Linked DNA regions of Homo sapiens: region 1 is linked to region 2. The links come from fine-mapping of genetic effects on gene expression. A gene starts in region 2. The other region holds a variant in brackets. All regions are shown on one strand. Distances are between the middles of the regions. Region 1 has its middle 9.4 kb from the start of SKIC8. Region 2 holds the start of DNAJA4 (DnaJ heat shock protein family (Hsp40) member A4).

The links.
Region 1: its variant is fine-mapped to the expression of DNAJA4 in blood mononuclear cells (TOPMed, PIP above 0.99).

The regions. Positions count from the first base shown.
Region 1 is chr15:78,301,350-78,316,584 of GRCh38, reverse strand. No RefSeq gene overlaps it. Among named protein-coding and RNA genes, the nearest start is that of SKIC8, 9.4 kb to the right of the region's middle. RefSeq lists an enhancer at 788-837. The variant C/T (reference allele first, on the strand shown) is at 8,359.
Region 2 is chr15:78,257,654-78,272,888 of GRCh38, reverse strand. It overlaps DNAJA4 (DnaJ heat shock protein family (Hsp40) member A4), which reads right to left and starts at 8,327. Exons shown (of 7, transcript NM_001130182.2): 1 at 7,994-8,327; 2 at 2,212-2,392. The coding sequence starts at 8,125. DNAJA4-DT (DNAJA4 divergent transcript) reads left to right here and starts at 8,745. Exons shown (of 4, transcript XR_001751621.1): 1 at 8,745-8,832; 2 at 8,932-9,017; 3 at 15,148-15,235. RefSeq lists silencers at 7,794-8,083, 8,394-8,473.

The sequences.
Region 1 (15,235 bases), 44 kb before region 2:
CTGGTTCTGTCTGAAGAGATGCGCACAGGCTGCTTTCCACCCAACACCCATCCCAAGGCCTGTTCCAGGCCCCTTTTGTCCCCCAGGCAGCAGAGGCCTAGCGACAGGCCTCATTCATCTTCCCACTGAGTCCAGAGACAAAGGGCTTAATGTGTGTGCAGATGGGCCTGCCCCTCCATCATCCCTCACAACCAGTGTCCGATAATGTGCCTCCAATGAGTCTCCCGTGGCCACCCTCTGACCAGGGGGTGGCTGGGCAATGACACATGCAAACACAGGGACTGGATGACAAAGCAAGCCTTGAGGGGGCATGGCGGGGGGCAGGGCATGATCACAGCCCCACGGAGAATCCCATAAGTCATTTCTGATGGGGATACATTAGGCCTCTCAAAGAGCACTTGCCCCTGAACACTGAGCTGCCAAATTAATTGACAAGGGACCTTTACAGGCAGCTCCTAGAGAGCAGGAACCCCTGTCCCCAGAGGCCCGGCCCAAGAAGCTGTCGTTTTCTGAGAGGAAAGAATTGTGCCCTGTCTGGCCAGAGCTCAGTACCCTTCTGGGCTGAGTGAGACCCTGGCCACTGCAGAGGGTCGCATGTATGTGTGATCAAGGAAATTGGGTCCCAGAGAGAGCAGTGATGTGCTGTAAGCACACAGCACATAGGTGGTGGAGGTAAGGCTGGAACCTAGGTCTCCTGACTACTCTGCCAAGCCCTTTCCCTCCCTCTTGTGGCCAAGCCCCTGAGTGCTGCAGAGGGCTCTGACTGCCTAGTCGTAGGTCCTCCCCACCCTCGTGGCAGGGCTTCTAGGGGTCAGGGGGAGAGTCCTCAGCCCCTGTTCTCCCACAGAGCCTGAGCCTGGCCCTGGTGAAAACACTGATGACCCCCCTCCTTTTTTATTTTTTTAGAAACAGGATCTTGCCTTGTCACCCAGGCTGGAGAGCAGTGGCAAAATCATGGCTCACAGCAGCCTCAAACTCCTGCCTCAGCCTCCCAAATAGCTGGGACCACAGGTGCATACCACCATGCCTGGCTAATTTTCTTATTTTTTATAGAGACAGGGTCTTGCTATGTTGCCCAGGCTGGTGTTGAACTCCTGACCTCAAGCAATCCTTCTGCCTCAGTCTCCCAAAGTTCTGGGATTACAGACATGAGCCACTGAGCCAGCCTAAAGCCCCCTTTAAAATGCAGACACAGAGCAGGAAGAGTGGCAGAAAGGATGGAAGGAGTGCCAGCAGCCAGGAAGCCATAGCTGGCCACTCACGGAAAGCCAGAGCACAGTACTAGAGACACAGAAGGCTGTGGATGGGAGTGGGCATCTGGGGACTAGGCTCACATCCCCACTCTGCCCTGGCCCTCTTGGGGATCTTAGGTCAGCCATGTCCTTCCCTGAGACCTTACCTTTCAGCAGAATGAAAGACTCAAAACAGGAAGCAATGATCCTATCACTATTCGCTCCCGTTTATCAAGCACTCTCTGTAAGCCAAGCACTGCGCTAAGTGCTGCTGAGTCCTTGTCTTATTAATCTTCGTAACAGACCCAAGAAGAAATTGTCTTCATTTTACAGGTGAGGCTGGGCACGTGGCTCACACCTGTAACCCTAGCACTTTGGAAAGTCAAGGTGGGAGGATCGCTTTAGGCCAGAAGTCCAAGACCAGCCTGGGCAACACAGTGAGACCCTGTCTCTACAAAATAAATAAAAACTAAAATTTTTAAAAATACAGATAAGAAAACAGAGTTTCAATAGCTAAAGTTACTTTTCTTACAAGTGGCTGAGCCCAGGTTAGAACCCAACCTCGGGGCATGCTCCTGGCTTAGGGACAAGGATAAGAGGGGACCAGAGAACAGACAGAGAATTCCAGAGGCCCAGGTTCAGCCAGGAAGCGCAGGTCAAAGTGGGTCCCGAGTGGGGAGGCCCATTAGCCACCAGGCCCCTTGGCCCCTGGAGAGAGGCACAGCGCAGAGGGAAACAGCCCACCTCCCCGCAGGTCTTGCTGAAGACCCTCCATTCCCCTTCTGAATCTCTACCTCCAGCCCCTCCCACAACTGGGTCCCTTTGGCTCCTCCTGTAGGAGTAGCCTCACCCAGGTGGCCTTAATCTGGTGGTCATGGAAATTTCAACAGCCCTGGGCCCGGAGCCCAGCCTGCTCTGCCCTGCTCCCCAGAGCCCCTTTCTAGTTACATGTCCTGGAGCTAGGTCATGGGGCTGGGTCACCTCCCTTCAGCATCTAGAGACCCCGCTAGTCTGTCACCCGAGTGCATCTAATCCTGAGGCTCCCCCTCCTTCCTCTCAGAGTGGCTTTGTCCATCTCCACTCCAGGACCCGACAGGAGGAGCATAGAAAGAGCCCGTGAAGAACCCCGGACTGAGATGGCTGAGGGCTGGGGCCTCGGAGAAGGATTCCCAGGGCATTGGATGGCCACCTGGATTTGGAGATTCACAAAGGAGGGACATTGTTTGATGGGAGAGGAGGCAGATCATAAGGAGTGTGAGCATTGAGGCCAGAGAGGAGGGCCTCACGCCAGCCCACAGCCCTGAAAAGCCCATAGGATGCTGCCTGGATCTTAGAGTTGTGCACAGCAGAAGCCCCCAAGATCTGGTTGCTGAGAGTGGGGAGGTACAGGGCGGAGATCCTGTTGTGGGTTGGGTAGATATCGGAGGGTGAAGGAGTCCAGCATTGGAGCTGTCCTGGTTCGAAGATTCCTTCAGTCTTCTGCAGTCCTCCCGACCACAGCTCAGCAACAGGAGCAGGCTGGTGTTGAGGGGCGGCTGGGGCACCACACTGTGCTGCTGGGGCCCACTCTGCCTGCCCTGCATTTGGCTGTCCAGCTGTGGCTTGTACATCCCCTGGGACTGGAGGCTTATACCTCCAAGGCAGCCCCTACTCCTGTGGCATGGTTCAACCTGTGAGAAAGACCCTTCTTCCTATGAGTCCAGGTGCTTCTCTGTGGCCTGTCCCTAGAGCCTGGCCCCGTTCGAGGTCAGAGACTATATGCATTCCCTCGGACCAGCATAGCCTGACTGAGGTCTGCCCAGCAGGCCCAGCACCCACCCCGCCTCTGCCTCCCCGGTCTCTGCAGGCCAAGGATGCTGCTATTTTTTAGCCATTCCGTGGAGTATGACCTCCTCATCCCCCCGAAACACTGCCTCTCCTCTAGGACCTCAGCTCGGCAGGATCCCTGTCCTCCTGACTGAGTGCTCAGAGCGGATATTCTGCAGTCTAGGGGCCTCTATTACTTGGTTTCCCGTTCCCCACTGATTTGGCAGGAGCCTGGAATTGAAGTCCGTGGAGGATCTGGGTCAGTTTCTTTACATCTAGAGCTTTGCTCAGAGAATAACTCAGTTCTTCAGGCACAAGACACCCCCAATAGCAGTTACCCCCTACACCAATGTGATGAGTTCCCACAGACACCCCAGCCCACCCAGCACAGGCCCCTCACTGACCTCCCAGCCTCCAACAGGTCCCCTGGTTCCTGGCCTTCTCCCGACGGCTGCAAAAGGCTCTTTGGAGTGTCCCTATTCCACACCCCTTCTCACCCCTCAAGAAATCATCTCTGAAGGCAAGGGAATGAGAACTTTATTTGCACACCAAAAAAAAAAAATTGGCCGAATTTATCAAAACAGTGGATTATTTGCAATCATGGGTGCTTGGAAACTGTCTTAGCCTGGATTCCCCCTAAAGCAGAGCCTGAGACAAAGACCCCAAGCAGGGAGCTGTCTTAGGAATTCAATCCCAGAGAGCAGGAGTGAGGGGCAGGGGCGGAACAAAGGAAGAAGCAAAAGCCAGATCAAGGATGCACTGCTGAGTTGGCCACCAGCGCTGAAGGGCCTGTGTCAAGCATCTCAGAACTGTCCCTCAGGGGCCAAAGGGGGAAATATTTACTCATCAGCTTCAATCTCCCATTGGTCAAGGCTGTCCCACAGGCAACAATTCTTCTGGGTGAATGTGGAGTGATTCCCAGGGCAGGAAGATAGAGGTGGAGACTGGGGGAGGGGAGGTGCTGTCAGCTCACGCTTGGGCAGAGCTGGTTGAAACTTGTGCAGAACGGACCCCAGGGTAGTGGCTGTACTAAGAGAGAAGAGGCTGAGAAGATGTGACGTGATGCACATAAGCTGTCCTATGCAGTAGTCAGCTTCATCGCGTGTGACACAGGCAGCTCACAGCTAATGTGACAAGTCAGTGGGAAGGACACCATGGTCAAGAACAGCTGAAGTGGATCAGAAGGTCAAAACTGGAAGGAGGCTGGGCGTGGTGTCTCACGCCTGTAATCCCAGCACTTTGGGAGGCCGAGGCGGGAGGCTCACTTGAGGTCAGGTGTTTGAGACAAGCCCGGGCAACACAGGGAGACCCTATCTCTACAAAAATAAAAATAAAATAAATTAGCCAGGCATGGTGGTGCACACCTGTAGTCTCAGCTACTCAGGAGGCTGAGGTGGGAGGGTCGCTTGAGCCCTGGAGTTTGAGCTGCAGTGACAGTGATCACGCCACTGCACTCCAGCCTGGGTGACAGAGCAAGACTCTGTCTCAAAACAAAAACTGAAGGAGTCCCAGAGCCAATGGACTCACGGGACAGACAGCTAGGGAAACTGAGGTCCAGAGAGGGTTCAGGCAGAGGCAGGCTAGAGAGTCTCCCTTTCAGAGCCAGAGATGGTTCCTGAGGCCATCTGGGTGACTTGCCAGCTTCATGCCTGGCACACACTTAATGATCAAAACTAGGAATGATATCAACAGTGACAATAACAGTAATGGCTCCTGATGTGAGGTTCCGTGTTCTGGCTGCTAAGCCCCTCGGCCTCCAGGGGCACTTTGGGCGTAACTGCACAGCAAGGTCTCCACATGCTTTCATTCTTCTGCTATTAATTTTAGTGCAATGGCAGTCAAGGAGTAAAAGCAGTGCTTTCACCTGGATATGCCAGCTCTGGCACCAGGATGCACTGGAGACTCACATCTAATGGGGGGCCTGGACCTCAGCTCTCTCTCTGAGTTAAGGGCAGTGTGTGGAAGGAGCTTTGTGGTGAGGCTGTTCTAAAGCTACCTTTGGCTTCTTGAATTCCCTTTGTCCTTCAGAAGTGCATTCGATACAGGAGTCCTGGGACTTTCCCAAGCTTACCAGCTTGGGGCCAGCACCTGTTCACCCTGGCAAGAGATCCTGGGCTTAACCTGTGGCAGGAAGGGATTTCCAGGTTCTTTTGGAAACCTCACGGCGGTGAGTTCTCTTCCTAGAGCTCCTTTTGCCCCCTTGCCTCCCAAGTGCAGGCCCCTCTGGGTCAGCACTTCCCTGCAGTCCTGCCTTTCCCACCTGGCTCTCAATCCTTTGACCTCCCCCCAACCCCACCACCAACTTTGTAAATAAAAATCCCTATATTTTCAGCTCTTTCACGGTCCCTTATTCCAACCTTGCTGTCACCACAGCTGGCTCTCTGTAGAGGACAGCGGTTCCTGGCAGCCTCTGGAGGGGACACTGCAGGTGTGCACACCTGGATTGAGACTGACACCCCCAGCAACATAACAGAACCACTCAAGGGGATGCTGGAGCTGGTACATACCAGCTTACCAGAGCAGATTGTACATATTGGTCAGCAACTTCCTGTCCGTGGCGTGAAATAGCCCATGGGGCATGGTGGCAGGTGCCTGTAATCCCAGCTACTCGGGAGGCAGGAGAATCACTTGAACCCAGGAGGCAGAGGTTGCAGTGAGTCAAGATAGCTCCACTGCACTCCAGCCTGGGCCTGGGCAACAGAGTGAGACTCCATTTCAAAAATAAAAGAAATAGCCCATGGGAGCTGTATTTACACTATGGAAATCAGCAAATGCTATAAGCCAGGTTTAGGGTTTTTCTCTGAAGAGCCTGTTGTTAAACACCTACCAGCACACCATGAACCCCTGATTCTCCTCCTTCTGCCCCTTTGAGACTCTCACCATCCAGGCAGACCCCTGGCTATGTTTGAATGTGTCCCCCAAAGTTCGTGTGTTGGAAACTTAATCCCCAAAGTGACAGTGTTAGAGGTGGAACTTTTAAGAGCTGATTAGGCCGTGAGGATGCCACCCTCATGAATGGATTCATGCTGTTATAGTGGGAGTGGGTTCCTTATAAAAGGACAAGTTCAGCCCCTCTTGCACTCTCTCTCTCTCTCTCTGTCTCTGTCTCTCCTCGCCTTCCCCCATCACCCTGTCTCTCCCTCTCCCTTCCTTGCCCTTCTGCCTTCTGCCATGGAATGACACAGTAAGAAGGGCCTTATAAGACACCAGTAACTTGATCTTGGACTTCCCAGCCTTCAGAACTGTGAGAAAAGAAATTTCTTTTCTTTCTAAATTACCCAGTCTTGGCCAGGCACGGTGGCTCAGGCCTGTAATCCCAGCACTTTGGGAAGCCAAGGTGGGCGGATCATCTGAGGTCAGGAGTTCAAGACCAGCCTGGCCAACATGGTGAAACCCCATCTCTACTAAAAATACAAAAATTAGCTGGGTATGATGGCCCACACCTGTAATTCCAGCTACTGGGGAAGCTGAGGCAGGAGAATCGCTTGAACCCGGGAGGCGGAGGTTGCGGTGAGCTGAGATCATACCACTGCACTCCAGCCTAGGAGAGAGAATAATAATAAATAATGATAATAATAAATTACCCAGTCTCAGGTATTCTGTTATAGCAGCACAAAACAGACTAAGACCCCACCTCCTTTTCCTTCGTCATCATGCTCACCTACCAATCTCTTCTATCTCATTCATTGCAGACAGTGGCACTAGCTCACAGCTTCCATACCCAATTCCTGCCACCCTTCAGAGGCTTACAGCCTCCTCCTGGCAGGCCCACCACCCTGGCCTCCTTGGCTCACCCTCCTACACTCTCAAGTGCCTTGGCAGCCATCTTTTTTGGCCTGACTTTGCTGCCTCCTATGTGAATAGGTAAATGCCAACGATGTCCAGAAAGTGATGGCATGATCCCCAACTACAGCAGAATTTCATACACAGCTGGGCTTCACGGTCCCTGTCCCCTCTCCACACATAGGACCTGATTCCCTTCGGTTGCACTTTGGGTCCCCGAGAGGTATGACTCAGTCCCCCAGTGTGGGGTGAGTCTACTCCTGGTTCCTGCCCAGTTTTGAAGGATGTGGGCACAGCGGAGGGACTCAGGCCCTGGATTGGCCCATCCGGTCTCTGGGCCATGCCCACAGCCTGCTCAGAGCAGAGAGTCAGGCTGCATGAGGACTCAAGGGGTCTGAGTTCTGCTCCCTACTCCACCACAGCTTTACCAGGTGCTCTGGATTAACCACGTGCTCTCCCTGTGCCAACTTTTCTATAAAATGGGGATACATAATTCCTACACCTCTTATGTAGGGAGAATCAGAGGAGCTAGGGCTTTTCCGCTGGAAAGTCGATCTTGGTTGAAGATGGCTTAGAGTCCTGGTGAGAAAGAGTCATTGTGAGCTCCTTGAGGGCAGGGATTTCATCTAACTCCTTTGAGTATCCCCAGCCTGGCCCCAAAAAGGTCCAGTTGGTGGATCCTGGCAGAATAGCCAAGTACTGAAGGTGACCACCAACCGCTGGTCAGCAGCTGGTGAAGCGAATTGAAACCCCACCCTGAACAGTTGCTGGGTGCAAAGAACTTAGTCCCCCAGGCCATGCTCGCAGGATGCAGCCCCTCAGTCAGGTATGTGCAGAGGATGGGAGGCCTCAGCTGCTTCTGGGCAGGATGCTCTCTCCCTGGCTTCTTCCTTCTGCTGTAACTCCCTTGGGGATCTCACTTCCAGAATCTACAACTGTGGTCTGGGAACCACACTTTTGAAAACCACTAGGGATTGAGACCATGGTGTTAACAATTTTGTTTTCAAGATGAGGAAGTTGAGGTCTAAGATGCCTTTACGAGGGGTCCCATAATGATTCAAGAGCAGGAATTCACTGCCTCCGGAGTCTGGAGGAGCCCAGGAGGGCAGGTACTTGCTACTCCATCAGCGGCGCCAGCCAAGTGGGCATGCGTAGGCAGTGACTGCCATCCTCTGGCCAGCCGTGGTAAAGCCCCTGGCTAGTGGCTCCACTGTGGTGGTCTGTGTTCCCGACTGGGGACTGTCAAGGACCCTGATTGCAGGGTAGGAAGCCAGTTCCAAGAGGTTCCCTGATTCAGTATCCATGGACCAGCTGAAGAAAGGAGTGATGTGTCCTTGTGGGTTTGGATTTGAATCCAGACTCCCGCCTCTGGCCCCATAATTGTCCTGCCCTCACCCTCTCCATACCCCTTTCTTTCCTGTGAGCTCCTGTTTCCCCGCTTTCCCTCCCTAATACTGTGGAATTATGAACAAAAAAATCAGCTACACCCAATTCAGCATGGGTTTCCATCCTTACTCTGCCTTGCTGGCTGAATGAC[C/T]CTGCAGAAGCCACTTCGCCTTTCTCAGGGTCAGTTTCCTTCTCTGTGTGAAACAGGGTGACTCCCTCCTCCGTAGCACTAGCGAGAGTTATTTCTCAGGGCGTGGCCCAGTCCATACATCCACCATCACAGCTCTCCCAGTGTTTGAAACCAAAATTAAAATTTGAAGACATTAGTGTCTCCAAAGTGGAATGTGTATACCCCAGACAGTGAGCAAGACCGTCTGGAGTATAGGAAGAAAATATTAGATCTTCTGATATTTATTTTTATCTTGTCCCTCTTCTATTTTTATATTTGTTTTATAATGTACATAAATATTATAGTAGTATAAATACATATATATTTATAAATAATGTACACACAGGAGAATGCATGGTGATAATTTTTTGTTTTTAATTAATTAATTTATTTTTTTCGTGAGAGAGGGTCTTGCTCTGTCACCCAGGCTGGAGTGCAGTGGCACCATCTCAGCTCACTGCAGCCTCTGCCTCCGGGCTTAATAGATCCTCCTACCTTAGCCTGCTGAGTGGCTGGGACCACAGGCATGTGCCACCACACCTAGCTAACCTTTTTTACATTTTTGCAGGGAGGGGTTTCATCATGTTGCCCAGGCTAGTCTCAGACTTATGAGCTCAAGTGATCCACCTGCTTCGGCCTCCCAAAGTGCTGGCATTACAGGCATGAGCCACCGTGCCCAGCCAGTAATAAATTTTTAATAATAGGTACATGTGGTCACTGCTTTAGAAAAGAGGAGGCATAACTTTCTAGAAGTTTCCTTGTGAGGAAATGCTCAGAGTGGCTGATTGCTGGGTGAAGTCTGGAAGTTGCCCTGGCTATAAACTTCAGAGATGTAAATACCCTTAGCCATCTGGCAAGCTAGTGAGGAAAAGAGACCTGGGGGCTTTCAGGGCCTTCCCTAACAGTGGGCTGTATGTTTGAGACGTCCCAGAATGGCAATTGTAAGAGTAATCCTAGCTGGCATTTATTGAGTGTTTTCCTTGTGCCAGGCACTGTTCTAAGCATTTTACATATTTTAACTCTATTAATCCTCATATCAGCCCTAAAAGGAAAGTTCTAGTATTATCCCCATTTTAGTGATATCCCAGTGGGGTTACATAATTTACCAGAGCCTTGGGTGGAGCAGCCAAGATTGAGCCCAGGCATTGTGCTCTAGAGGCCAAGTTGTTTAACCCCTTTGTGCCAAAACTGGAAACAAAAAGCGCCTGGGGCCTATCTGGTGGGGCATGGAGGAGAGAAGGAGGTGCTGCTTGATGAAAGCGGGGAAGCTTGTGGGGCAGAGTGAGGGTGGCATCTGTAGAAGGAGAGGGGCACCACATGAGACACTGTGGCCCGCAGGAGGGGAGGGAAGAGGGGGACTAGGAAGAAGGAGAGTCGGGTGTCAGCTGTGGGGTCCAGAGAGGAAACCTGGGATAAACATCAGAAAGGGCAGGTGGGGTCCCTGACATCAGACTCTGCCAGCTGGGGTTCTGAGGAGAGCCTTGAGAGCTCTACACAGGGCAGATGTGGCCCATGGACCTCCCTCTCCTTCTCCCTGTGCTGAGCAGAGAGCAGGACTTTTGCCTGCACCCCTCTCCAGACCTGCTGATTCATGTCTTTCCCGGGAAGTCAAGTAAGCCTTCCCGGAACTGGGGCGGAGGCAGCTCTTCCTCCCAAGGAGGTAGTGAGCTCCCTGTCCTTGGAGGTATTCAAACAGAGGCTGGATGATCCCATGGTGGGGTTGTATAGAGGGAGAGAGGTATGAGATAGATCTGTGAGGTTCTTCTTCATTCAGAAATGCTTGGACCTGTGACTGAGTGGAGAGGAGAAGTATAGGGGTAAGTCCTGGGACACTGTGGCCTAGTATCATTCTTCCTGCTTGAGCCTCTCTGTGGGTCTGCTCTATGCAGGGCTAGTTGGAAAGGCAGTGAATGACTCAGGGAACAATTATGTCCCTGTGGGGCTGCAGCCTTAGAGGGGGCCTCCCAACCTTGGCCTCTTTATGAATTGTAGAGCTTTTCAGGGCAGCCCTTACATCTTGGAGCTACTTCATCATTAGCCTGGATGTTTACCTATCTTATTCTAAAATCTTTTCATTTCCTCCTGACCTGGAAGACCAGAACTCTAATTACAGATGTTTAAATGTCACATACAATGGCAAGTCTCTCCAGATTTGCTTTACAATGGGCATTCCGTGGATCTGTGAACTTTGATAGGAAAATAATTATATCTTTATTTCCCTTAAACTGTAACTGGAATTTAATATCTTCTTTAATTATAAATGTATGCAATAAATCTAGGAGTATTAGTAGTACCTGTGACTTTGTCACCAATACAAATCACAAATATTTTCGTATCACATTGCAGCTGTTGCAAGTAATTCTAAATATTGTTTATGCTCACTGCTACTTTAAAATTACAGAACAGGCTGGGAGCCATGGCTCATGCCTGTAATCCCAGTACTTTGGGAGGCTGAAGTGGGCAGATCACCTGAGCCCAGGAGTTTGAGACTAGCCTGGGCAACATGGCAAAACCTCTTCTCTACCAAAAAAAAAAAAATTACAAAAATTAGCCGGGCATGGTGGCACATGCCTGTAGTCCCAGCTACTTGGGAGGCTGAAGCGGGAGGATCGCTTAAGCCTGGAAGATTGAGGCTGCAGTGAGCAGTGATTGCGCCACTGCACTCCAGCCTGGGTGACAGAGCGAGACCCTGTCTCAAAAATAAAATAACAGAAGATATTAGACATGCTGCATTAATAAAGCACATATACTACTGTTTCACAAATATTTTGATAACTACTTTGATATAATTGGTTTCCTTTGTAATCCTATGTGGCTTGTTCTTATGTACTTGAAAACATTATTCTGCCCCACCTGGCTGTTCTGTGATCTCATGACCTTTGAGTGGGAACTCAGACTCAGGAGGGCTGCTGCCAGCACTGGCCCAAATGACTTCGGTGGTTTTTACAGCACGCTGGAGAGAATCTGAGAGGATTCCCTGGCAGGAATTTGAGGATTATCTGGGTGATGCATCAGTGATTACAATTTTGTTTTTACCAGTTTTGCTAAGCAGCAGCAATAGCAGAGGTGATTAAGAAAAATGAAAGAAAAAAATGCAAAAAGAGAACAGGCAGAGACGGTGGTAGCTGCTTTCTTGATGTTGATACTGAGGGCCAAGCTTTCCACCACCCCCTTGTAGTTGCAGAAAGCCTCAGATGTAATGGTAGTGTTACGGGATCTTTGGACGGGTGTGGGAGGTATTGATTTTCTTCCTGGGAGCGCCTTTGCCTGAGTTCTTGTCCTGTGTCCAGGAATAATGAGGTACTCGAAGAACTTACTGAGTGTTAAGCAGCTCAGAGAAGACCCGCAGTGGGTAGCTCCTCTGAGCAAGTCATCCCATGGAGTGTTCAGCTCTCAGCAGACAGGAGGCCTGGAGAGGGTAGCTCCCCCTCTGCCCACTGGTTATCCTGCCACCTGCTGCTCTCAGCAGAAAGAAGACCCAACCCTGGAGAGGGGAGCTGCTCTCAGCAAAAAGAAGACCTCACCCTGTAGAGGGGGGCTGCTCTCAGCAGAGAGAAGACCCAACCCTGGAGAGGGGGACTGCTCTAGGGGATCCTGGCGGGGGGTGCTCCTGGAGAAGGAGGCTGTTCTGGGGGATCCTCTCCTCAGGTCATTTGGAAGTCTCTACAGGAGGAGGGGGGCCTCCTCTCCGCAGGTCCTTTGAAAGGCTCTGCAGGTCTCTGCAGCTCTGGCAGAGAGGGTAGCTCCTTTCTACAGCTACTCTTCCCGCTGTCTCTCCATCCTCTCCTGCAGTTTGGCTGAGCCCAGGGCTTTTATGGACCTCAGAAGGGAGGAAGTGTGTGCTGACTGGCCCATGGGCGGCCATGGGTGAGCCTGGAGGAGGCACCACAAGCTCCCACTCAGGTCTGTGGGACTGGCAGCCTGGTCCCCAGTCTTCAGTCCCTCCCTGACCTGAAGGTGGGGCCTTACTGGAGACCTACCCCCTTCTGCCCAGGAATCGATCTGCCTCCTACTGTCATTCATGGCCCCTGGGGCTTGGCCCCAAGCCCTGCTCCATGATCAGAGCAGGGGCGGCAGCAGAGAGAGGCCAGGCAGCAGGAACAGACACCCCCTAGCGACGGGGTGCGGTGGGGTCCTTTCTGGGGTCCACGAGGGTGCAGGCTGCAGAGACCCTCTGGGTCCTGCACCTAGGAGGGCAGATCTTGCCTGCTCCCAGCCCCCTCCAAGAGCACCGGGAGGCTCGGATCCACAGCCGCTGTTTGGGCAGTTGTAGCCCCGCCCAGGAGGGTGGCGACCCTGCCTGCTCCGTAAAGCAGGAGGCCTGGATCTGCAACTGCTGTTTGGGCGGCTGCAGCAGCACCTGGGGAGCTCTCCCCAACTCAGAAGGGGGAGGCATCCACCAGCATGCAGCCCCAGCTGTGCCTCCCTGCCGCAGCCCGGTGATGGCAGCAGCTACTGCAACAATAGTGTAAACAGTGGCCGGGCGCGGTGGCTCACGCCTGTAATCCCAGCACTTCGGGAGGCCAAGGCAGGTGGATCACGAGGTCAGGAGATCGAGACCATCCTGGCTAACACAGTGAAACCCCGTCTCTACTAAAAAAAACACAAAAGAAAATTAGCCGGGCGTGGTCGCGGGGGCCTGCAGTCCCAGCTACTCAGGAGGCTGAGGCAGGAGAATGGCGTGAACCCAGGAGGCGGAGCTTGCAGTGTGCCGGGATCGCGTCACTGCACTCCAGCCTGGGCGACAGAGCGAGACTCTGTCTCAAAAAAAAAAAAAAAAAAAGGGTAAACATTTTGAACTGTATGCATTATTATATCAAGGAGTAGCATATCTTGCATGAATGCTCTCTTTTGTGTCTAGGTATTCTAAACACTCTTAATGTGAAAATGAAGTGCATGTAGCAAAAACCTTTTATTATAAGAAACTTTACAACACTTGTGAAAAAAATTAAATTTGGTTTGTGCACAGTGTAACCTTTCTCCAGATATTGTCCAAAATTACACACGCACAAACCGTTCACCCTAATTAGGCGTTGGCCTCAACCTAAACATCTGGGACTGTTATCTATTAAACTGCTGCCAGAATCTTACATCCAGTTACCTCCACTTTCTAGAACATATTCTCTAATAATGCCATAGAAACCAATTTCTACTCCATACTGATGTTTTTTTGCAACAGCAATTAAAATTTTTTCTTCCAAAAAACCCCATTGTTCTGGGACAGGATTCATTGGTTTCATCAGATGCCTGAGACGTCCACAGTGTAAAAAAGGCCAATTATTCTAGCTTTATAGTCCCAATGCTAAGGTCATGCCAATGATCCCATATGTCTGGCCCTCTGGGGGAATGTGGTGAAAGTAGGTACTTAATACATCCTTTTTGAATGAATGGTTTGGAGTTCTTGTCATAATTATAGAATTATAAAGCTGGAAAGTCTTTAGAAAGTCTTTATTACAATGATTTTCAAAGTGTTTGGCCATGACTCATAGCAAGAAATGGATTTTCACTTGTGACCCAGTAACCGCATGGGTGAAACAGTTTTTATAAAACATGATGTAACTTTACTATGTATGATGCACTCTTATATCTTCTATTCTACTTCTTTCTTAATGTATTCCATTTCTCTTTTTTGAGATGATTAATTGAATTTTTATCCAAAACAACTGGCTTCAATTGAAAATTATTAGTAGCAGATTTGGGAGCAAGTAAACAGAAATGGAAAGCCTTAGTATTTGGCTTAATTATTCTAAAAGCACACTGATCACATTTATGCTTTTTTAATTTTAAATTTTAATTAAATTTTAAGTTAAAAGGCATAAATGTGATCAGTGTGCTTTTAGAATAATTTGAAGGTGGGGTATTTAAAGTTAATGTGTAGAAAAGAAAAAAAACCTTACATAACCCCAGATCACACAAATTAAAATTCACTTAGTCATACAGTTGTGAGCACTTTTGACAGCCAAAATTTCACCCTTCTTAAAGTAGGAGTCTTTCAAAAATACTTCTTCATATTCAAAAGCTAAAAGTTAGAGTGAAGATGGCCCAATTATCTCGGTGTGGGAGAGGTTACATAATAATCTATTTCCAAAACCCACAAAAACCCGTAAATGTCACCAACAAAAACAAAGCAGCAGATTGGCCAAAACTAAGGCAACTGGTTATACAGGAAGGCAGCAGGTCACTCATTTAACTGCTAAAAGCCATTGCTTTGTAGTACTAATGTTAATTCCTTTCCACACTTCAGGAACCCACATCCCAGCCATTGCAGGGTCAGTTTCTGTGTATTTAGCTCTGTGGAATGTGCCCGAACACCAGTCAGCACTTAAGTCAATCTAAGTTTGAAAATCAGCTCACTGGCTTCATGATATAATTTGTACATTCTTCCTTAGCTTCAGGGGCACATGCCTGACCCTGGTCCAATAGATCCAGAATGGTTACAAGGATATCTTGACTTATAAGAGATGCCACATAAGAATTTTGACAATTCAGTCTTGAAGTCTGCTCACTTTGACCCAAACTTTTTAAGCCAGTGACATGCAGAGGGTCCACTGGGGCTGGATGAAATTTCTATGGACAGAGATGTCACAGAGCTGGGAAGGAGAGAAATAGCTCTCCAGTCAATGTGACTGAGAAAAATTAGTCATATCACTCTGAAACATGTGAACTTGAGGGTTAAGGATGCTGGCATGCAGGGAAGTCATGTGTGCAGCAGAAGAGCTGCAGGATGTCTTCTCTTTTGTGTTAATGTGAGATTACTGAGGACAAGAGAATAGGTCCTGGGAGATGTGGGTGTATTTGCCAATTTCTCACCACACATAGCCTCCTCAAAAAGCCCCCAAAGATGGCCAGGTGCAGTGGC
Region 2 (15,235 bases):
TCTAGCTATGAGCTAATTATTCAATCATTTATAGAGGCCAACAAAAAGACTTTCCACCTTTATTTTCTGAGAACAAATCTGAGGACAAGGAGAGTACTAATTGAGAAACCAAAGGCAGTATTAACCCACGAAATTGGTTAAGTTTCCCCATGAAAGGAGTCCTTTCTATACATAAATGTTTGGCAGCCAAAGTCTCTGGATCTTTCACTTCCTTGGGCATAAAGCACTTTACTTTCTGAGCCCTTCTGTAACCGGTGGCCAAATGGGAATTCTTTCCTCTGCCAAAATCTTGCTTCTGCAACTCAGGACAGTGGGTGTTCAGTCCACAGGGTGGGGGTGTGCTCCAGCACCTGCCAGCCTGTCAAGACTGACAGCATCAAGACCCTCCCTGCTGCCCGTGGAGCTCCTGCAGTCACTGAGATGAGCTGTCCTGGTTTACTGGCTGCCAACTTTGAGAGATGACTTAATTAAGGGCATGAAGTTTTTCATCTCAAGACAGTGAGGGAGCTGGACAAGAGAATACCCAAGGTTTTTTTTGTTTTGTTTTGTTTTTGAGACAGAGTCTTGCTCTGTCCCCAGGCTGGAGTGCAGTGGTGCGATCTTGGCTCACTGCAAGCTCCGCCTCCTGGGTTCACGCCATTCTCCTGCCTCAGCCTCCCGAGTAGCTGGGACTACAGGCGCCTGCCACCGCGCCCACCTAAGTTTTTGTATTTTTTAGTAGAGACGGGGTTTCACCATGTTAGCCAGGATGGTCTCGATCTCCTGACCTCGTGATCCACCCACCTCGGCCTCCCAAAGTACCCAAGGTTTTATCATGTCCACACCATCAATTATAGGAGCAGGCGATATGCTCAAAGGACAGAGGAAGGATTTTTCCCTAATAAACACTTTGTGATTTTCAGCACTCTATGTTCACAGAATTGACACCCAAGCTTTTTCAAGCTCAAAGTCAATTACAATGTGATAACAAGTGCAGCTTCATTTATCTAGGGGCCTCTCACTGACCAAAGCCACACTTCTTAAACCCCAAGGCAGAGCTCATTTCTTCTGACTTTATCCAGAATTGTAATACGCTTGGTTATCTTTCTGGTTTCAAGATCCAAAGCAGCCTGACAACAGTAAACTAAACAGGGGGAATGGGAACTAGTCTATTAGCAACTACTAACAACAGAGGTGACAGCCCGTAGCCTGGCAGAGGTGAGATGCAGAAAAATTAGGAAGAACAAATCCCGAGAAAGTCAAAACAGTGGCCTGGGGCCATTGAGCTAAGGGCTAAGAAGTTCCTCATTCACCTCCTGGGGATGAAGTTGCTACTACTCATAATGCATTCTGAAAAGAAAGGCAGGTCATTTATAAAGATTTCAAAACATAAAGAGATGAATTTTGTTGCCTAGAAAATCCCCTGAGCAGGCTGGGAAATGAGGCCATACTGAACATGGCAAGAGTACCCACCTAGAATTAGAGAGCCTGCAGCCCACGCCCAGGTCAGGGAACATGGAGGGCCACAAAGGGAGGGTGGGCAAGAGGAGAGAGGAACACTCTCGGTAAAGGATCACTGACAACCACAGGCGGCGTCATCTACATCCCTCAGCACACTCTGGTGCCTGACCCCAACAACAGAGGAAAAGAAGGCACGATGAACTTCACCTTCCTCTTTTCTATCCACCACTCCATTCGCTACTTCATATGGTATTGGAGGGTGTCAGATAATTACTAAATTTACCAAGAGTTTCCAGGTAGCCTGAGCACTAGACAAGTGATAAACTCTTTAAAGTTAATGATCTCAAAACATGGCAATTGTACCTGGTGGGGTTTTTTGTTTGTTTGTTTGTTTGTTTGAGACAGGGTCTCACCCTGCCGTGCAGGCTGGAGAGCTCACTGCAGCCTCGACTTCCTGGGCTCAAGTTTTCCTCCAGCCTCAGCATCTCAAGAAGTAGCGGAGACTACAGGCATGAGTCACCATGCCTGGCTAAGTTTTTTATTTTTATTTTTTTTGAGATGGGGAGTATCACTATGTTGCCCCGGTTGGTCTTGAAATCCTGGCCTAAAACAATTCTCCCACCTTGGCCTCCCAAAGTGCTGAAATTACAGACATGAACCACCGCGCCTGGCCCAATCATATCCTTTTAAAGCATGATCTATCCTGATTCCAACAACACGTATAATTGTGGAAACCATACAACTTATTTATGTTTCTTTAAAAGCATTTACCTCTTCTCTCTCTAGCCATCCGTCCACCACCACCAAAGAACATGTCAAAGATGTCCATGGGTGAAGAGAAGCTGGGGCTGCCTGAGCCTCCTTCTTTAATTGCCTGCTCTCCGCCTTGGTCATAAACATCCCTTTTCTTTGGATCTGAAAGCACTTCATATGCCTGGGATATGAGTTTAAACTTTAAAAGAGAGAGAGAGAGAGATTTTTAGAGAAGTTTCAGTTGTTTTGTTAAGCAAACCTGCCATATAAACATACAAAGTAATAGAGGTATTCTGCCCCCAAACCCTTGAACTAGCCAGTCTATACATCCTCTACCTGGAATCTGACTTGCCTGTCTACCTACTCCTTTGGTAAAGTGGGAAACACAGGGCAAACATATTAAGGGACTGGTGGTAGGGACACGATAAGAATAAGGGAGAGAAGCCAGTAGAGAGGGAAAGTTTCTCACTAATCCGGCTGCACCAGACAGGAAGTCGAGACCAGCTAGGATACCATGAGACAGTGCCAGGGGTGAACCTCTAACCAGATAGAGCCAGGACTCTGGGCATTACCACTGGCTCACCTCCTCATGGGAATCATTTCACTAGTTTACTAGAATGAAATTCAACTACAGGCATCTGTGAGCATCTAACCACGTGCCAGACATTGGATACAAACCTATACTCCTGATCCTCCCCCAAAAGCCCCGCCCCACCCATAGTCTTCCCCATATCACAGTTATTGGCAATGCCAATCTCACCTGTCAACAAATCCCACTGATGCTACCTTCACATTTGCATCTCCAGTACCCTAAGACAGACACAATATCCCATGTGTAGCATTCCTGCCAAAAAGTTACCACTGGAACCCAATTGTACGAAAAGAATCAGAAAACCCAAATTGAGAGATACTCTAAAATTAAAAGATAGAAAAAAACGAATACAATGTGTGATCCTGGATCAGATCCTGCACAGGGGAGAAAAAAAAAAATGGCTACAAAGGACATTATTGGAACAATGGGAGAAATGTGAATCTTTGTTCCCAATGTTAAACTTCTTGAATTTGATAACTTTACTATGGTTATGTACAAGGATGTCCTTGTGCCCAAGAGAAACACGCAGCACTTAGGGCTGAAAGGTTATGCTATAGGTAGCTTCCTCCCAAAATCTTTAGCCAACAGTAATAATAATAATAGATAAAACAAATGTGACAACTTATTTATAACTGGTAAAGCTAGGTGAAGAATACATAGGTGTTCATTGTATCACTCATGTTTTCTGCAGGTATATGGACATTTTTAAAATAAAATCAGAATGCGAAAACATGCAAGATCTGTTCCTTCTTACCACACCACATCCACTCTGGCTGAAGGCACCATCTCAGGCCTGGACCACTGCAGTGGCCTCCTCCGTGGTCTTCCATGTGCCCTCCTCACCCCAGCTTTCAGTGTGTTCTCCACTCGAGCCCACTAATTGGGTCGATCCTCTGCTCAAACCTCTACAAGGTGGCCCACGTCACTGGGAGTAAAAGCCAGTCCTAACTTTCATCTATAAGCCCAACTTGGCACCTGTACTTTCCTCTCCTCCTGTGTGTCCCCACCCCAATTCTATGCCAGTTTCAGCAGGCTCCCTGCTGTTCCTCAACTCTGCAGTCTGGGCCTCAGAGGCACCTCAGCCTGGTGCGGCCTCCCGACTCATCTCTTTCCAGCCTTAGCTCACAGACCACCTTCTCAGGGATGCCTCCTGGTGATCCAGCTTTAACACTGCAAACCCACCTCAGACCCTCCCAGCCCCCACAACTGCTGCATATTTCTCCATATCATGAACCACCTTCTAACAAGCTGCATCATCTACTGCTTATGCTGTAGCCCCCACTGCAACATAAGCTCCATGAAGATGGGGGGTTTTGTCCACTGCTGTCTAACTGAGCCTGGAACCATGCCTGGCATGTAGAAGGCACTTGGTAAATACCTGTTAGATGAATGGCTCGATTCTGGGAACTCAGAAATAAATAAATGAGGTAGGATCTTGGCCCTCCAGAGGCTACAGTTTAGTCGGAGAGACAAATATGGATATATAGATAAACAGATCCTATAATGCAGCTGGCTCCAAAAAATATTCAGGGAAAAAAAGTGCCATGAAATAAGGAATTTGAGAGAGAGAACAAGGGAATTTGAGGCATTAATTCCCTTGTTCTACAGATCCCTGATTGAAATCTAATAAGTAACCAATAATAATAGCTAATAAATAGCTAAAAAACTACAATTTAGAAAAGTCTTAAAAAGACATCAGCATCATATATAAGGCAGCTAGATCTTTTGATATGTTAATTCTCATACCATTTCTGCGAAGAAGTAAGTACCATTCACTACTATCCCTTTCCTCAGCAGAAAACATGAGGTAGAGTGTAAGGATTGGGTGCCTGGTACAGATCAGAAAGCAACTAGGCCAGGCTGCCCCTAGACAGTTTCTGCGTCTATCTGCAGGTCAGGACTAGGTAAATAACTTCATGGGAACGTCCACCGGAAACACTCACCAAATACCCTGGATACTCACATGTCATTTAGACTTAATAGAATGATCTAAGAATGGAAAAGGAGTACCCAGTTGCTTGGGACATTCAGTCAGAGGCCAGATCTCACATGGGATGGGGGTTCCAACTACCAGTAGGGAGTCCATCCTCTAGGGTCCCAGCACTCCAAAGTCTAATTCAGCTCCCGGCCCGGACCCCCTTCTCCCAGTGGGAGACGAGTGCTATGATGAGCTTGCCTTTCAGACCATGATCATTTGCCACAGAACCTTAACAGGATTACTATACAGCTGAGGGGAAAATGGCTTTGAAGACTACGTAACAACTTGGGAAAAGTACTTATAATAAAATATTAAGTGGAAACAAGAAAACAAAATGTCTATGTATCAGGATGGCCATGTATGATCATACTGGGGAAAGCTTGGAAAGAAGCACAGAGTGGTTAGGATAATGTGTACTTGGTAGGTTTCCCTCTGTGTTCTAAAATTTTCTGCATGGTTTGCTATGTTCTGATTTTTGAACTTGAAAGTCTATTATTCAAACTAAAAGTTACAATGAAATTGACCAAAAGACCAAACTCATCTCAACAGGGTAATAGCCAAGAATATACCCCACATCATTGCCCCTAAAAGGGACTATCTTGGTGACCCACTACCTACCACCCATGCATCTTGCAAAAAAAACAAAAAACAAAAAAAAAACACCCGCAGAGAAGTACAGACTCCATACAGAGTGCCCAAAAAACACAAGGTGCCCCAATGCTTAGCAACAGGGGACAACAGGGCAAAAAACAAAGACCAACATTTCAACGGCCTTCTCAGTTTTCCCAGCAAGGGGTAAAGAACTGGTGTAGTCTATTTTTGAAGAGACGTTAATAATACAGTGACGAACTTAGGAGGAAAAAAAAATTTAAAGGTTCTACCTGTGATAAAGTGGAAAAGAACTACACACACATACACACTCACATACACACTCACACACACACTCACACACTCACACACTCACATACACACTCACACACACACTCACATACACACTCACAAAAGGCCTGCACAGTGCACCCAGCACACAGTGGGGACCAGAAGAGGAGGTATTTGTTGAATGAATGAATGAATGAATGAATGAGCTCTCTCTGGGGAACTCTACAGCCGTTTCTATAAATTGTGTCCCCAGTCTCCTCATCCTCTTTGATTTCCGATCTAAATTGCCACTCTCCTCCCAATATCCCTTTCACTGCAATTTCCCTTCCAATTTGTGCCTTTATAGGGCCCTCTCCTCCTACACACAATTTTTTAAAGTGCATTTACTCAGCCAGCTAACAAACATTTTAGCACCTACCCTGCACAGCTAGATACTCACCCCATAAGTGGCCATGGGGGCACAGTCACTGCCCTGCTTACATTATGGCAGGTAATACAGTTATCAAACAAGTAATCACCATTAAAGGAATACAGTTAATCAAACAAGTAATCACCATTAAAGTAGGATGCACGTTGGGCCTGTGGTTCAGTCTATGAGGCAGAGGCAGCCTCCTGGAAGATGTTTTAGCTGAGAACTAAAGAGTTTTATCCCCTTCCATGAAGGTAGAGGAAGGAAAGTATTCCTGGCAATGGGCACATCACAGAACCCTTCCCTCCAAGCTGATGGGCCTGCCAGACCTCACTGCCAAGGGCCTCATTTATGTGACACTAACTCAGTGCCTGGCTATGAATAAATATTAGTTTAAAACAAACCAAACAACCTGCCCAGACAGGTATAGACAGGGTGAAACCTACACATATGTAGTACAGGTCAAGTCTAATTTTTTAAAAATAAAAGCTTCAGAACAAAAGCATATTCAGCTCTAACTGTATACACAGAGGCATGAACTTACTCTTGTGAGTGCTGAGATTTGACCTGAATCCAGGGTCAGGCTTTCCCACATGTCTTTAGCCAGCTTGCTGAAATGTGAAATTAGAAGCCTACAAGCTCTCCTTAAAGGAGACTGTCAGAAGCGGACCACAATGAATGTAGGGAGCAGGTGGATGAATCACCAGCACCATGTAAAACGCCAGTGCCTTTAAAAGCTACAGTAAGCCATCTAAATATAGATGAGAAAGAACGCAAGTGAGTAACAGACAAATGGTCTTACAGGAAAGCATTTTAAACTTGTGACAGCCACATTCAGCACATGTGGCTAAATATAAATATTCCATCACTGTTGCCATTCAGCCAACCGTCCTGAAGTAGCTTTCTCCAGCTTGGAACAACTAACACAGACAGGTATTTTGATTCCAGCGTCGTTTCCACAGGTCTTAAATGCTACATGGGTGATTGGTGTGGTTTCAAACGTGGCCCAAGTGACACTGCTATCAGCTACTATAACGGCCCCACCTCTCAAGACCCATGCGGAACAACCAAAGTTTTGTAAGAAAATGGCAAGAAGTGAAAGGAGGAACGGGAGGGTTAGCAGCCTTTCCTTGCAATGCCTCATCCTTCAATTCACCTATTCAGGTGGGTCATGAGCCTCTTTAGAGATAAAAAGCAAACTTTCTGTAAACAGGATGGAAAAGCTTTTAACTTCTGTCTCTAAAATGCAGAGCATTTTCAGTCTATGATTGGTACTTATGATCAACTGTGTGTCACTTGTCACCGAAAACCCAGAATATGAGTACAAGCTGATGTCAGGTTGCAGATGTCCGTGTCCCTGTTTAATAAAGAAAATGGGATTATTCACTATCTGACGCTTTTATCAGGTAGGCAGTAGGTGCACAGAACAAATCCAGCTAGTCATTCTCAAGAGAGGCACGGCGTTTGTCCAAGGTACCAGCTCAGATTAAAGACACTCATCCCTAGGGTTTATGCATCAACAGAGAATATGAGCCAGTCGTTCCCAGCAAGTAAACAACTGTTTGTGTGTGCCTCAGTTTCCCGATTCCCAGGCCGCCTCTCCCACAGGGAACCAACACACCCTATGAGAACTAGTCCGGCGCGCACGGCAGGGGCTACCCAAACACTTGTGGAGCGAATGGAGGAATGAATGGGCTCGGCAGGGACTCGCGAGGGACCCAAGTGCCGCACCACATGCCTCCTCCGCGGGCGAAGCGCCCTCCACCGACCGCGCCGCACGGCGCCCAGGGTCTCCCGCCACCTCTGCCCGGCCTGGCCCCGAGGCGCCTGGCGACAGCCTCCCCAACAAACGCGGCTCAGGTTTCCCGTCGCCTTCAATGCTCCTGGCTTAATAACCCTTGGCCCCTCGGGAGCCCGGCCCGTGCCCCGCGCCGCCCCGCACCTTCTCGCCCTCATCCGGGTTCTTGTCCGGGTGGTACTTGAGCGCCAGCTTCCGATAGGCCTTCTTGATCTCCTCCGGGGACGCGCTGGGCTTCACGCCCAGGATGTCATAGTACTGGGTCTCCTTCACCATCTTGTGTCTGCGGGGGGGGCGGGCGAGGCCGGTCAGAGCGCCCCGGACGCCCCTGCCGGCACCCTGGCCCGCGCCCCTGGCCCGCGCCCCCGCCGCCCGCTCGCGCGTCACGGTCACGGTCGCCGCCGCCGCCGCCGCTTGTAGCTCCCGCCCGCCCCCCGCCCCGCGCCGGACCGACTTCCACGCCTGGCTCCACCGCACTAGAGCCACCGGCTCCTCCGCGGCGGGTTTTATTCGGCGCCGGCGGAAGCTTCCGCAAGGAGACGGTGACGCCACAAAGGCCTAGAACCTTCGCGGAGGTTCCGGCGGCCCCGCGGCGGGTTCGCGGCCCAGACCCCCGACGCCCGTCCGGCGCGGCCCAGCCGCTCACCTGGGCTTCTCGGGCGTCTGCTCCTTTGGCTGCCCGTCTGATTCCCCGGAGCTCCAGCTCTGACTGCCGCCCCGGGCCATGGCGGGGGCCGGAGAAGGCGGCTTGGGCCTGGAGGGCGCCCTCCGACAACTGTCCCGCCGCCCCGAGGCCGCCCCCTTGCCCTTCCGTGGGTCCGTGGAGCCGGCTGGCTGGAGAGTAGGCGGCCTGGAGGGCTGTGTTGGCCGGAGCCCTGCGCCGAAGGGTGGGACTGGGAGAGCTGCGCCCTGCGGTCCCCACCCGGCCTCTCCCCGGGGGTGTGGCCGCCGTCTGTTCGGTCACAGCCAGGCTGCGGCCTAAGGTGTGCCTGGGATTGTTGCATTTTTTAGGGGGTTGGAGTGGGTAGGGGCCCTCTGCTGCCTCATGACTGCAAGGCTGAGGTGAACCTCTGGCCTTCCAGTTGAGGTACAGGGGTCCTTTGCTGGCCCCAGATGTGGACAGTATCCTCTCGAATGCCCACCACTGGGAACCCTTAAGTCCCTCAAGGTGAGCAGTGACGTCCCCCACATATGGGCAGTGACGCCCCCCAAGTCTGCCAAGGGCCGACAGTGCCCTCTCTTCTCCCAGAAGTGGGAAACTGCCCCCTCTCCTCTGCACATCATCAGTGAGCAAACATCAGGGCCCGACCAGGCTGTTGGGCCCAGTGTTATGCACAGGGGGTCCCATGGCCTGGACCCTGAAACGGCTAGGTGGCCCAGGATGCTTGCCTTGGAAGGGTACAGGAGTAGGTCCCGACTTCCCTAGGCTGCCCCCAGCTCCCAACGGGTGCTCAGGGAGTCCAGATCACAAACCGTTGCAGAAAAGTGGGCGTGGAAAGCAGGCCCCAACGCTATCACAGAATTGCAGGCCCCTGTCCCCTAGCCCTCCCTTGGCTTCTGCCAGGGGAACAGTTTGTCAGAAAGGGGGGTCACTGCTCACCTCCCTGGGATGCCCTGGCCTTGTTTTGGGTACTGTGGCTGAAGCAGGTACTACCTCTCCTCCATGTGTTCCATGGGGGTGAGAAGTGACTTGTACTGTACAAGAGAAATTAAGCTGCTCTTCTTGGAGATGTTGCTTTTTTTTTTTTTAAATTATGCCTTGTAGAGCAGAACCTTTAGGCAGAGAACTCAGAGCTAGAGGTCAGAAACTTTGTTTTCTATCCAGATCTTACTGTCTGAGCCTTAGCATCTCAACACTTTTCTTCGTCAGCAGGACATGGGGATTGCCACTTGCCTGCCTTTCTCACAGGGCTCTTATAAGCATCAAATGGGATGATAACTGTGAAGACTCCTAGCGCAGTGGGTCTCAAACCTGGCTCCTGACAGAGATCACCTGGAATCTTCTAAAAATCCCTCTGGGTTGCACTCCACACCTGTTACCTTAGAGCTTCTAGGGGTGAGGCCCAGGCATCAGTGTTTTTCAAGCTCCCCAGGTGGTACAGCCAGAGCCGAGATCCACTGCCCAGGGTCACATACTTGTCCAGATTTAGTACTCGGGACCATAGGCATTCGTAAAATGGGCATGTGCAGGAGAGGGATGGCTTAAAGACAGAGCCTAGAAACATAGAATGGAGCTATGCACTTTGGACGACAGTGAATTCTGGAACCAGTGAGACTTAGACCTAGGTTCAAATCCCAGCACTGCTACTTCTGGCTGTGGAACCTTGGGCAGACAACTTAACCTTTCTGAGCCTCAGTTTTCTTAACCTTTTAATGAGGATATTAATTATAACTACTTCATAACTTTGTGAAACACCTGGTATATAGTCACAATATTGATGCTTTTTGGGGGTGGGGGGGTGCGGGCAGGGGCTAAGGTATAGAAGCTGATAGTGATTCTCTTCTTGATGGAACTTAGCCAGGCTCCTATGAGCCCTCTTCTCAACTAGGCTTCAGTCTTGGCCTATAAAGACTGAACAGACAGCAACACAGTTTCTAATAATTCAACGTCACATCCTTAAGATCACCAGTTCCCAGGCTTTTTGGCACCAGAGACCAGTTTCATGGAAGACGATTTTGTCACGGACAGGGTGGTGGGGGTGGGCAATAATTCTATGATGAAGGCCTGGCGTGGTGGCTCACACCTGTAATCCCAGCACTTTGGGACGCCGAGGTGGGCAGATCACTTGAGGCCACGAGTTCAAGACCAGTCTGGCCAACTTGGTGAAACTCCATCTCTACTAAAAATACAAAAATTAGCCAGGGATGGTGGTGCTCGCCTGTAATCCCAGCTACTCAGGAGGCTGAGGCACAAGAATCGCTTGAACCCGGGAGGCAGAGGCTGCAGTGAGCTGAGATCACACCACTGCACTCCAGCCTGGGTGACAGAGCAAGACTCTGTCTCAAAAAATAAAAAATAAATAACAATAGGATTGTCTAGTAAAATCAGATATTTTTGGCCAGGTGTGGTGGCTCAGGCCTGTAATCCCAGCACTTTGGGAGGTCGAAGTGGGCAGATCACTTGAGCTCAAGAGTTTGAGACCAGCCTGGCCAACATGGTGAAACCCCGTCTCTACTAAAAATACAAAAATTAGCCAGGTGTGGTGGCACGTGCCTGTAATCCCAGCTACTCAGGAGGCTGAAATAGGAGAATCACTTAAACCCGGGAGGCAGAGGTTGCAGTGAGCTGAGACTGTGCTACTGCATGCCAGCCTGGGCAACAGAGAAAGACTCTATCTCAAAAAAGAAAAAAAAATGGAGGATGAAACTGTTCCACCTTAGATCATCAGGCGTTAGATTCTTATAAGGAGCATGCAACCTAGATCCCCCGCATGCACAGTTCACAGCAGATTTCAAGCTCCTGTGAGAATCTAATGCCACTGCTTGGTTCCTGACAGGCCACAGACCAGTACTGGTCCGCAGCCTAGGAGTTGGGGGCCCCTACCTAAGGTGACCCTGGCCCCACTACCCCCTCTTAAAGTGCCTGCCTGAGAAAACTCAAGGCTGCCAAAATATTTACTGTGTTTTTGTTTCATCCAACACCTGAGGATAGAGCTTCTGTCTCCCAGTCTCTTTGGGAGAACGGCATCCTAACTTTGGCAATTGGCAGCTAGCAGACACAGCTGGCCTAATGTCACTTACACTGACCAACCCTTTGTCATTTTTCACTTCCCTGATTCTGTTAAACTGCTGCTTGTCCTTCTCCCTATTCCCTCATGTTCTTTTCAAAATGCCCAATTACTTTTCGTACAAATCGATATTGAGCTCAGTTCATACTAGATTGTTTTCCCTATTGCAATAGTTATGACTGATTAAATTCTGTCCTTACAATTTTAACTACTGTTCAGCTTTGTTTATCTTAGACAAAGCCTCTGACAATCTAGTAGATTATTTCCCAGAATTATGCTTGGGAGGATTGGAGGCATTACACAGACATTTCTTATTTTGTCAGTTATGTGTTTATTTTCATGATGACCTTTTCATTACTGCAACTTTTATTAAAAGTGACACTGACTTTCCACTCACAGTAAGCAATGTATGGTTTCCTTTTTATATTCTTTTAAAAAAGAGTAGATAAATAGTAAGTGTATGATAGTACCTGTAGTACAAGAATAAAGCAACAGTGGTGATACTTGAATGACAGAAATTTGGGAAATGCTGATCCAGTTCTACCATCTCATTCTACAGTTGGGGAGACTTTTAGACAAAGAAGCCACATTATACAGAACAGCCATTGTCCCTTGATGCAGTGTGGGGCTTCCTTTCTGACCCAGTGTAGAAGGAGAGTCAAAGCAAGCACGGAAGTAGGTTTTACCCAAGGAATGCTGGGATGGGGTCTTCAAGGAGTCTTCTGAGAGGGAGAAGCCACACCTACCTGGGGAGGGGGGTCAGGAAGGACTTCATGGACGAGGGACATGTGCCATAGACCAGGAAGTTAGAGCTCCCTTTAGCAGCAGGGAAAGGGAGGGCAGCCATGCTGAACGGACAGCAGGATAAAGGCAGAGAGCACAGATGGATGAAGGCTCTGAATTGGAAGGGAAGCAGGGACAGGTGTGCTAGAGCCTTGAATGCCTTGAGGAGCAGTTTGCTGCTCTCCTGGGCCCTGGGGAGCCATTGAAGGTTTCAGAGCAGGACCTGCGTTCTGAGAGGTGTAACTAGCAGCAGACCCCGGGGGCTGGGTGGATCTGGACCTCCTGGGAGAGGCCCAAGCTGGGCATGCCGGTTTGTAGAGGCAAGCCCAGAGAGAGGGCATAGAAGGAGAAAGAGAGCTCCAAGGAAAAGCGTTGGGGAGCGCCTGTCTTTAGGAAGTGGAAGGAGCAACAGCCATCGGAGAAGCAAGAGGAGAACCCAGAAAGCAGAGAGGACCAAAATCATGCAAGGCCAGAGCAGCGAGGGGTAGAGGAGACAGTGCCTGGGTGGCAGAGAGGCTGGGAATGGGGGGGACCAGTACTTCAAGGGGAGGACATTAATTTATTGGCCCCCGAAACAGCAGTTGTCATTTCAGGCCATTGTTTTAATATTGGGAGGGATTTCCACTTGGAGAGGCCTTGCCCCTCACTGGCTGTGTGACCCTGGGCAAATTAGCTTTCTCTGAACATCCATTTCCTCCTTTGCAAAATGGGGATAAGAACATCTGCTTCACAGAATTATTGTACAGATGAATGGAGACAATGTGTAAAGGGCTTACCATGTGCAGAAAGCACGTGTTCTCACGATGAAATTTATTGATTTCATCACAACAGGATTTGTGCACAGCAGCTATGTGTCTGGCTCTGTGCTGGGAACCAACAATACAGCACTAGATTAAGGTTATGCCTGTCCTCGAGGAGCTCAGAGACTAGCTGCACCTCAACATCTGACTCCAACCACTTTGGGTGACCCCTAGCACGGGCTGATTTTGCTAGCATTCCAACCCATAGAATTTTCTAAGAACTCACACTGAAGTAGTTAACCGTTGCCACCTTGCTTGAACAATAAAACCTGAGCCCCTGGCTACATTCCTGTGGGTTAGGGCCTGGTCTCTGAGAAGTCACTTCTTCCTGGAACTTGGCCTTTACCCAGAGTTGCTGTCACCAGAGGTTGGGGCTGCCTCTGTTTGGGGAGAAAAAAACTAAGAAAGTGAGGGAGTGGTCATCCTGCCACATATTTGGGCTTTAGAGACAAAATTCTGAGGTTTTCTCATCAGGGCACCCATCTTTTGAGGTCCCAGAGTCCAGAGAGAAGACATCCCTCCATCCTTCCAACAGATATGTAAAGTGCCTTTTGTGTCCAGTGTTGCAAGAGGCTTTGGAGCACACCGGGGAACAGATCCTGTCTCCCCCACACAGAGGACAAGAAAAAATCTAGAAATAAAGCTCTAACTGTAGGAGCAAAGGAAAAGTGTCCTTTTGAATTCTGGGTGGTCAGAAGGAGGAGATGACCTTCGCATGAATCCTGGAGGTTGAGAAGGAGCCAGGCGTGCAGGACTCGGGTTAGGGAGTTCTAGGCACAGGCAACAGCACGTGTGAAGGCCGCAAGGTGTGAAGAACCAGAAAGGAACCAGTGTTTCTGGAACAGTGATGGAGAGGGGGCATGGCCTTCAGGGCAGAGTGGGATTTTATCCTTAGGGCAGCAAAGGTGGGGGGTGTACTTTAAAATTTTTGTTGTATATTTATTTCATAAATTTTATTTTTTTAACTTTATTTCAGCAATATCTCTATGTTGTTACAGACAACATCTTTGCATACTTTGTGTTCTATTTTCAGTAATGCCAGATTATAAAACATTTCTTGAGTCATTGTAGCTCTCAGTTTCAATTTGGAGACATTTTGCTCCTCTGAGGCATAGCAAAATCCTCAAAGCAGTCCTTAGATTCAGAAATGAACCATGGATTTTATATGCTTGAATGTCGTAATGGAGTCTCATAAGATAATTGAGAGTTACTGTAGAAATATTACAAATATTTTAATTCCATCATATAATAGCTATCAGTTTTTTTAAAAAAAAAGTTTATAAAAACAGCTGACACACAATGAATTGCACCTATTTAAAGTGTACTGCTTGATCAGTTTCGATATATGTATATACCCATGAAACCACCATCTTAATCGAGACGTGAGCGTATCTATTGCTCCCAAAAATATCCTCATGAAAGAGTATATATTTAAAAGCCTGCTCAAGCTTGTATTGGTCTGCAGTTAAGCTGGGGCCACAGGCCTGTTCTGCTGTCTCCTAGTTTGTTTTTTTCCAGAAAATAAACCCATCAGCGCTTCAGTTGTGATACTGGCTCCATCACTTCTTAGCTGCGTGACCTTGGGCAAGTTACTTAACTTCTCTGCCTCAATTTCTTATCTGTAAAAAAATACCTACCTCAGGGGGTTGTGAGGAATATAAAAGGTTATGTGTGTGTGTGTGTGTGTATACACACCCACACGTGTGTATATAAATTATAGGATGAAAAGCTCTTGGACAGTGCTTGGCACAGTGTTCAATAAATACTGGCCATTGTTGTTATTTGATACAAAGAGCTCCATACATGCATCTGCCTAGAAGGATTCTATTTGGAAATACAAAAAGCCCAATAGGGTGGGAGGCTGAAAACCCTTCAGGGGAACTTGGCTGAGACACTTACCATAATAGTGCCACTGTTATAGGGTGCCTTGTTATAGGGTGCCTTGTGTGTGTGTCCAGTAAAAGCTACACTTAATGATTTTTTTCAGATCTTTCCTCAGCCTCGGCCAGTCCTATCTCAGCAGTAGTGGCCGGTGTTAAGTATGGTGCCTAGAAAATTACAGACTATTCCAGACC